Linked DNA regions of Homo sapiens: region 1 is linked to region 2. Evidence: fine-mapped expression QTL. Tissue or cell type: whole blood. Region 2 holds a variant in brackets; the other region holds the start of a gene. All regions are shown on one strand. Distances are between the middles of the regions.

The links. PIP is the estimated chance that this variant, and not a neighbour inherited with it, causes the effect.
Region 1: CEP57 starts here. The variant in region 2 is fine-mapped to the expression of CEP57 in whole blood (TOPMed, PIP above 0.99).

Annotation. Positions count from the first base shown.
Region 1 is chr11:95,788,491-95,792,490 of GRCh38, reverse strand. CEP57 (centrosomal protein 57) reads right to left here and starts at 1,993. Exons shown (of 11, transcript NM_014679.5): 1 at 1,748-1,993. The coding sequence starts at 1,792. It overlaps FAM76B (family with sequence similarity 76 member B), which reads left to right and starts at 2,709. Exons shown (of 10, transcript NM_144664.5): 1 at 2,709-3,099; 2 at 3,928-3,992. The coding sequence starts at 3,013. RefSeq lists enhancers at 1,085-1,748, 1,712-2,181 and a silencer at 2,682-3,101.
Region 2 is chr11:95,961,999-95,966,262 of GRCh38, reverse strand. It overlaps the pseudogene RPL32P25. Among named protein-coding and RNA genes, the nearest start is that of MTMR2, 40 kb to the right of the region's middle. The variant G/A (reference allele first, on the strand shown) is at 2,092.

The DNA of each region.
Region 1 (4,000 bases), 170 kb after region 2:
ATTTTATTTTATGGAGACAGGGTCGCTCTGTCGCCCAGGCTGGAGAGCAGTGGCACTATCATACCTCACTTCAGCCTCAGTGATCCTCCCGCCTCAGCCTCACTAGTAGCTGGTATTACAGGCATGAGCCACGCACCCAGACTCAATTCAACATTTGTAAGAGTATTCCTTGTTCGGTCTCCAAGTGCTTAACTTTTGAGAGCCGTGAAAAGCCCTCTTCTCCCAAGTTTAATCACATCTCCTATAAAATCTCATCCATCTGCTGACACTTCCAATAGTTTTTTACTTTTTTCTTTTACTGACCTAATCCTGAATAACCTTAAATTGCTGCTTTCCTTACTTCTCCTTAACTTCCCCAGACCTCTCTGCAAACTTCTAATTCCCATTCGGCTGAAACACTGTAATACTTCTAGTCCCATTATTACAAATTCTAACAAGTCTCCAAAAGCTGAAACTGACTTCTCCAAGGTGACCAGGCTTTCTTAGCGTTTCCAACTCTTTCCCCCTAGATCCTAGAAAATAACTTTACCCTGATACTCTTCTAGTTCCTTCCCTCACCATCCTTCTTTTTTCACGTTTTTACCTACGTTTCCAATTCACCTCATCCAGCTCTACCTCCGTATTACTTCTTCTCATTCCGAACTATCTCAAGTTTCCTAAAAGCACCTACTGTTCTAGCACATACTCCAAAATTCCCGCACTGCCTTTTTCTCCTTTCTCTACTCTTGGGACAAGCAATCACAATTCCTTCGACACGCAACTAGCTCCATCTTCCCTTCTAGGAAACCTTCTCTAGCCTACCCAAGCACTGTTAATCACTCCCCTCTAGATTATTCTACTACGGTAGCACTTCCTAAACTATACTGCGCAGTAATCACTAATTACGTGTAGTTTCTCTTCAGTGTTTTTCTCCTTCAAAGCAGGGTTTCTATTCTGTTCATTTGGACCCTAACAGTATACCAGGCATCGAACATTTGCTAACTGGAGAAATAAGAGCTCCAACATTTACTTCCTATCAAAGCTTTCCAATGCCGCGGTTTTCAAAAACCTAAGCATTCGACACTCCAATTTGAGAAATACCAGTGAATACCAGTAACTAAACTGGATGGTGACATTTGATGAGGCGAAAACAATATTTAAAATCAATTCCCCCTGTCGCCTCTCCAAAAGGGCATTTCCACATTGAAGTTCCAGTAATTCTAGGTGACAGGAAGCGCGCGTTCTGGCTACGAGCATCACACAACGAAGTTAATGTGGATGGGAGTGGGAGGCACTGCAGGGATAGGAAACAGCATAAGCAACGACTAGTAAGCGCTCGAGAGACGGCGGACTACTATTCTGCAACGTCTCTTAAACACACTGGCGCGCCTCACCTGATCTGGCGAGTTTCCTAGAGGGGCCGCTGAACCCACGTGACCAAAAGAGCTACATTTTTGCAGGCCAGGGAGTGGGCAGTTATCCCAGCCGGCCCTTGGGAATGTTAGGCAACCGGGGTTGGTTGCTACGCCAAAAGGTGAATAAGGGCTGGGGAACAGGGGCGGCCAGCCCAGTTTCACTGGGAGCCAGAGGGTGCAGCTTCGACACAGCCACAGTGAATGGAAGCTTGGGGAGCGCGGGGCAATCTAGGCATTCCCGCCGACCTCCAGAATTGCGTCAGAAGCTGGACTGACAGCGCCCTGAAACGTGAGGAAACTCAAAGAGGCGCTTAGGGCCGACGTGGGGCCCACTCGCGCCAACTGCTTCTTACCGACAAGTGAGAACCAGAAGCCGCAGAGACAGACGCCGCCGCCATCTTTCAGCCTGCCCAGGGGGTCTCCGCACTTCGGGGGCGGTCTAGGTTCTCGTGCTCTTCTCCAAGACTCGGGAGCCGCCCACCAGCGGGGACCCTAGGCTGAACCCCTGATGGAAAAGGGCAAGGGTGCTGGTGCTGGGCTTGGAAACCCCTGCAACACACCCCCTCAGGGCCGCCTACGCTCACAGCTTACACAGAAAGGGCAACACGTCCTAACGGACGTCTTTCCTAGCCAATCAAAACAGCAGACGTCTTTCTGTAGTAGGAGAGAATCCGCCTCTTCCCTGGTGACGTCACAAGGTAGCGCGTAACGGGGCCCGCTGGGGCAGACAACGCCGGGGTTACAGGCCGGCTCTGCGGGGATTCTACGGAGGGTCGGGCCTCCTCCAGTAAGAAGCGTGGGCGAGTAGTGGTGTCGCCAGTGGCAACTGAAGGGAGTAATGGAGATAAAACAAAAGCGAAGGCGAAGTTAAAGCACTCCACGAGTTCCCTCGGATTAAACGCCGGAGAGAGCGTGAATTTGCCTCGGGGACGCCTCTCCAGGTGAAGTATTTACCTTTTGGCCAATAACAAATAGGATTAGGAGGGACTTAACGATTTAGTCCAATAGAAAGCAAGGGAAAAAAAGTTGCGGCAGAGAACGAGCCTTTCGCGAACATTTGCTCAATTGGATTGGGGCGCTCTCAGCCAAACCTGGGACTGGCTGTTAGAAATAGCCGCGACCGCAGACCTTTGGGCGGGGCAGGTTCAAAGCGGATTTCGCGCGCTGAGAGCTCCGGGATGTCATTGGCCGGCGACATCCTCCCTTTGTGGGCGCTTCCTGCGTCGCGGAAGTTGGGAGTTGGGAGGAGCCATCGAATGACGCGATAGCCTTCGCAGCCAATCAGGGATGGGAAAGGGAGGCCGAGAAGGAAGCGGATCCACGGCCGCACAGCTAAACAGCAACCCCCTACCCGCTTCGTCTCCCTCCGCCGCTATCGGGGCCTAAGCGGGAGCGGCTGGCACGGCGTCACTGGGTGGGCTGGGGCGGAAGTGGAGGCGGAGGGAGACGGTGGCGTCGTCCGCGGGGCCCTGGGCTCTCGCGGCGAGGCCCTGGTGGGCGCGAGGCAGGGGGAGGGGGAGGAGGAGGAGCCCGCGGCCCGGGCGGCGGCGGCTCTCGGGTTCTCCGTAGGGCCCCGCCTCGGAGCGGGCGGCGGCGGAGGAGGAGACTGAGGAGCAGGATGGCGGCCTCGGCCCTGTACGCCTGCACCAAGTGTACCCAGCGTTATCCTTTCGAGGAGCTCTCCCAGGGCCAGCAGCTCTGCAAGGTCCGTGGGCTCCGGGAGGCGGGCGGGATGGGTGTCCTCGGCCGTAGCCGGAGGGGGCCGGGTAGCCGCTGCACTGCAGCCCCTCTTCGCCGGCGCCTCAGGGGTTTGGGAGTCTGGAGCCCTCGCCTCCCCACTCGGGGACCCCTTTTTCTGGGGGCTTGAACATTAGCTGGGAACGGACCCTGAAAGGGAGGCAGAATCGTGCCCTTTTCCAGGCGGCCCAGGAGGGTGCCGGGCCCCGTCAGCGTCTGGGGGTCTCAGGAGTGGGGTTGAGTGAGGCAGCCACCTGTCTATGCCGCAGAGACCCAGGGGTGGAGATGTTTTCATCTCGGTTTTCTGCCTGGTCTGTCCTCTTCTTCCACCAGGAGGCAGGGGACGGTTTTTGCACTTTCTTGCTAGGAACCCGAAGCCGCAAAGCTGATGGCATCCTTCTTCCCTGTCCAGGAAAGCGAAGCGACTGGTTTGGGAACAGAATGCTCTGATTTGGAGCTCCTCCCATCCCATTAAAGCCTGGATGCTGTCTGTGAGCAACGGTGCAAAATAATAAGTAGTTTCACATTTAACCAATCCTTGAAATAGGCCCTGACAGCTTTCTTAATTTGTCTGTAATATACCCCCACGTCTACTAAAGACAAAGACACCTGTGCCTTCCCTAAGGAATTATATTGTGATTGGCCACTTATATGATAAAGCATCCAGTTCTTTACGTTGGGGCCAGGTTTTATAAATGTTTTAGACTTTCACTAGGTTGGGTAAACAGTTTTCTACCAGAAAAGTGAGATTTGGGACTTTCAGAAAGATACTGACTAATGTATTGTCTTATTACAGGAATGTCGGATTGCACATCCTATTGTAAAATGTACTTACTGCAGATCAGAATTTCAACAAGAGAGGTTTGTAT
Region 2 (4,264 bases):
AAAGTTGGCAGGAACAAGAAGAGGATGCCCACTATCATCCATTCCTACCTGATCTTCTGGTGGAAGTCCTACTCAGTACAAGAAAACAAAAAAAGAAAAAAAATACATTAAAATTGTACAGAAACAAAACAATCATAATTGGATAATCATAAATATATGTGGTTATTCATTTAGAAAACCCCAGAGAATCTAGCCAATTTTCTGGAAACTAAATCAACACACAAAAGCAGTTTTTATATGCCACCAACTATTAAAAAGCATAACTTGAAAATCATATTCACAGTAACATCAAAATCTAGGATATGTGTGGATATACATGTATATGTGTGTGTATTGAGCCTTACATGCATAAAATTATCAAATTCTAATAAAGAACATTTTTAAAGACCAAATAGATAATTACCATGCTCTTTGACAGGAAGCATCTATAGTATAAAGTCAGCAACTTTTTCTAACTCAGAATTCCCCAGGGTACCTCTTGGTGATTCCATGCCCAGTGATAATAGCACATGGGCAATTGCAACTACCTAGTCTTGAAAAGGGCAAGGTAACCAGAAACTCAATTCCCTCAAAGATAAAGGACTGGGTCACCTACCAAGAGAAGCATCCAAGAGATATTCTGACCAAGGGAAGTCTACCATGGGTGGTAAAGGTGGGAGATGATGAATATCAACTGATGGCCTCAGGACCAACTACAGCAGTAGGGAGTGTACTTACTCCATCTACATTTAAGCCTTTTATTCTTCTCTTTTTCAGGTACCTGTACCTTAAAAATTTGAAGAATCAGTGACAACATAGAGTGAACATAGTGTGAGGGTTGAGTGGATCTGAAGGGTGCAACGGGTTGCAGTAGCAGATCTCAAAAGGGCTCCATCCATATCGCTTTAATCTATCCTAGACAGCTGCTGTCAAGATGATTGCCTCCTACATATTTCTTGACGATTGCCTGAGGGCATCGTCTTTAGCAGAATACTTGGGACAAGCCTTAAGTAGAAGAGAATTTCTGTCCCAAAGGGGGCTTTCAACCAATTTAGGATGGTGGATAAATAGCCCAGATCCCTTCTCCTTTAGTGGATAAGTCTCATGTGTGTTTCACACTATCTTTCAGAGTTCCCAGTGGGAATAAGCCTGGTTGCTCATTGTGGTAATCTGCTTATAAATAAATGCTTTATTGGTTCTTATTCTTTCCAGGTCTCACTTCCTTACGCCTTCACAGTGCTTCCAGGTATCACCTTCCAGATAAACTCCCTGCATGCAGATCTTTGTCTTAGTATCTACTGTGGGGGGAATTAAACTAAAACAAAATCTAAATGTCCATCAATGTTAGAAGAGGTAAATTGAGGTATTGTCATAAAATGGAATGTAATGCTACAAGAAAAGGGAATGAGCTAAATACATCAACATAATGTTGAATGAAAGAAGCAAGTCACACACAAAAAACCCTACACCTTGATTCTATTTTTAAAAAATATTTTAAAAGGCCAAACTAAACAAGATGTTATTTAAGAATACATACTGCAAACCAAAAATAAAATTCGAAGCTCCCCAATCGACTGAATGGACCCCTTTTTGGCCAACGGGATCCCAAAGAAACCTGACAAACAAGTTCAGGCCATAATGGGAAGGAGTCAGACATGTCTCACTGTATACTCCTCCCTTTGGAGTTTAGAAACATCTAACCAGCATTAACATTAAAACAGAGATCTTGAGACTGACGAAGCAGGCTCTTGATAGCAATAAGATACCAGATTCCAACCTGACTCTGGTATAGCATCACATGACAAATAGCAGGCCTTGAGGGAAGTCACTTTACTGCCAAATATACTTCTTTGACATATATTGAAATAGCCCTGCAAAGCTGTCTCTTGTGGGGGAAATGTGCATTCTATAGAGAATCTCCTTCCCTTACTATGTCTTTTATGCAGAGTCTGACACCATTTAAGGCCTGATAAGAGACATTTTCTCTGAAGCCTGCTACCTCAAGGCTCTATCTACATGATAAGAACCTTGGCTTCCACAACCTCTCCTTTTATCTTAACTCAATATTTCTTTATGCTGACTTCAACTCTTTAGGCAGAGCTAAACTCTTTC[G/A]ACCAATTGCTAATTAGGAAATCTTTGAATGCACCAATGACTTGGAAATCCCCCCGCCACCCAACTCCCCCACTGCTTCAAGATATCCCACTTTTCCAGGCTGAGCCAAGTATACTTTCCATGCATTGATTTATGTCTTTGCCTGTAACTTCTGTATCCCTAAAATGTATAAAACCAAGCTGCAACCCAGCCACCTTTGGCACATATTGTCAGGAAGGACCTCTTGAGGTTGTGTCACAGGTCATAGTCCTTAACCTTGGCAAAATAAAACTCTAAATTGATTGAGACCTGTCTCAGATACTTCTTGGTTTATAATACAGATTGGCAAAACCGCAAAGAAAAGCAAGAGACTAATTCTCATAAAAGCCAGCCTAATGGTTGCGTCTAGGGAACAAAGAGAGCTTTTAAGGTACTGGTAGTGTTCTGTTTCTTAACCTGGTTGTTGTGTATGCCATTATTTGTTATCTTATTCCTTAATTTATTCATACCTTTCTTGGCAGTTTTTATGGTTTTCTTTAAACACAAGTAAAACGTGCACACAACCTGTCTATTCATTTTCTTTGCTGTGCAGCCTGGCATTAGGATTGGTGACTCTGATGATGAGCTAGGCTGCTCTTTCCATGATGGCTGTGTGGTTCTTCTTTGAGAAAACATTGTGAGCATTCTCAGCCCAGTAAGATTTGTTGCACATCAGCAGCACATCCAGCTCCTTGACACTGGATACTAGGAACTTCCAGAAGCCATGGGCAGCATGTGCTTTGTCTTCTTGTTGCTCCTATAACCAGTGTTGGACATCAAGTCTGGCCCTTGAATCCTCTGCATACCCTGTTGTTAATACCTCTGGGTTTCCACCAGTTACACTTAATTTTGACATATCGATCTGTCCCGATGATGAACTTCTTGATCCTCTTTATGACAATCTTGGGCTCCACAAGGGGTCTGAGTGTGGCTATGATGGTGAATAGGAGATGGCTGCCACCTTCATAGGCAGCATCACAGAAGAGACTTTATTTATATGTTGTGTATTTAATATCTTTTACAATAAAAAATTTTTAAATGCTGTCAAATTAAGAATGTGAAAAACGGAAGGAGCATTGCAGTTGATCAACTAATTGATCGTTAAGTATGAGGATTTTGCACTCAAATTGCCTTGTGTCTTTAAGTTTCCATTCCATTTTAATGAAACCAGAAATTGAAATCAGAAAATGCATTATGTATGTGATTCATGCAAGAAAGACTTCAGAGAATAAAACCATATCAAAAAGAAAGGCCTTGGCCCTAACATCAAAAAGATTTGTGAATGCTGGCACATTATAAACTTTACATTAAAAATAAATTTTAAAATTATGTTTTAAGTTTAAAAATATAATTTATATATGTATGTATATAATGTATACATAGATAATTCTGTTTAACATACATACATAATTCTGTTTAACCCAATTTTATTTTTCTTTTTTAAGTTAACTAACCAACTACCACTTCTATTCACATCACATAAGAGGACATCTACTCTACTAAACAGTAAGGAAATCAACTAAAGATTGTGTAGGGCTTTGTTTGGAAACTAATGGGAAGTGAAGACAGAATGGCACAGAGGTTATGTATGTTTAAAAATTAAAACTGATTTTTAACACTTATTCTTGAAAAACATGCAACAAATATTAAGGAAAATTATCTCCAATATGAATGAGTATAACATTAAGTAATCTTCAAAGTAGTTTTTACTCATTACTGATTCATATACTAACCTAAAAGCAACATGTCAGTTTTCAAAGCACTAAAGAAAAAGTATATATGAATAGTGAGAGAGATACAGAGAGAGAGCACCCCCATTTATATTTGTGTGTCTCCATTTGTATAATCCTGCCTTTCAATACTTGCTGGAAAAATAGAAGATTATTCTACATCTGGTCTTTTGGTTAAAGTTAGCAAGGCATTTTTGTTAATCTTTGGAGTGATCAGAAGGTTTGAAAGATGTCTTAATCCTGCTCTGAGTGTGTTAAAGTAGATGTCTTTTTTCACTTTACAAAATCAAAAGAGAGTGGTGTTATGAGGATTAGATTTTGACAATTCAACCCAAATGACTTTGTTATGGAAAAATATTCTGCGTCCTTTCTCTAATCCAGAAAGTATATTCATAGAGAGGGCACTATAACTACACTAAAGTATA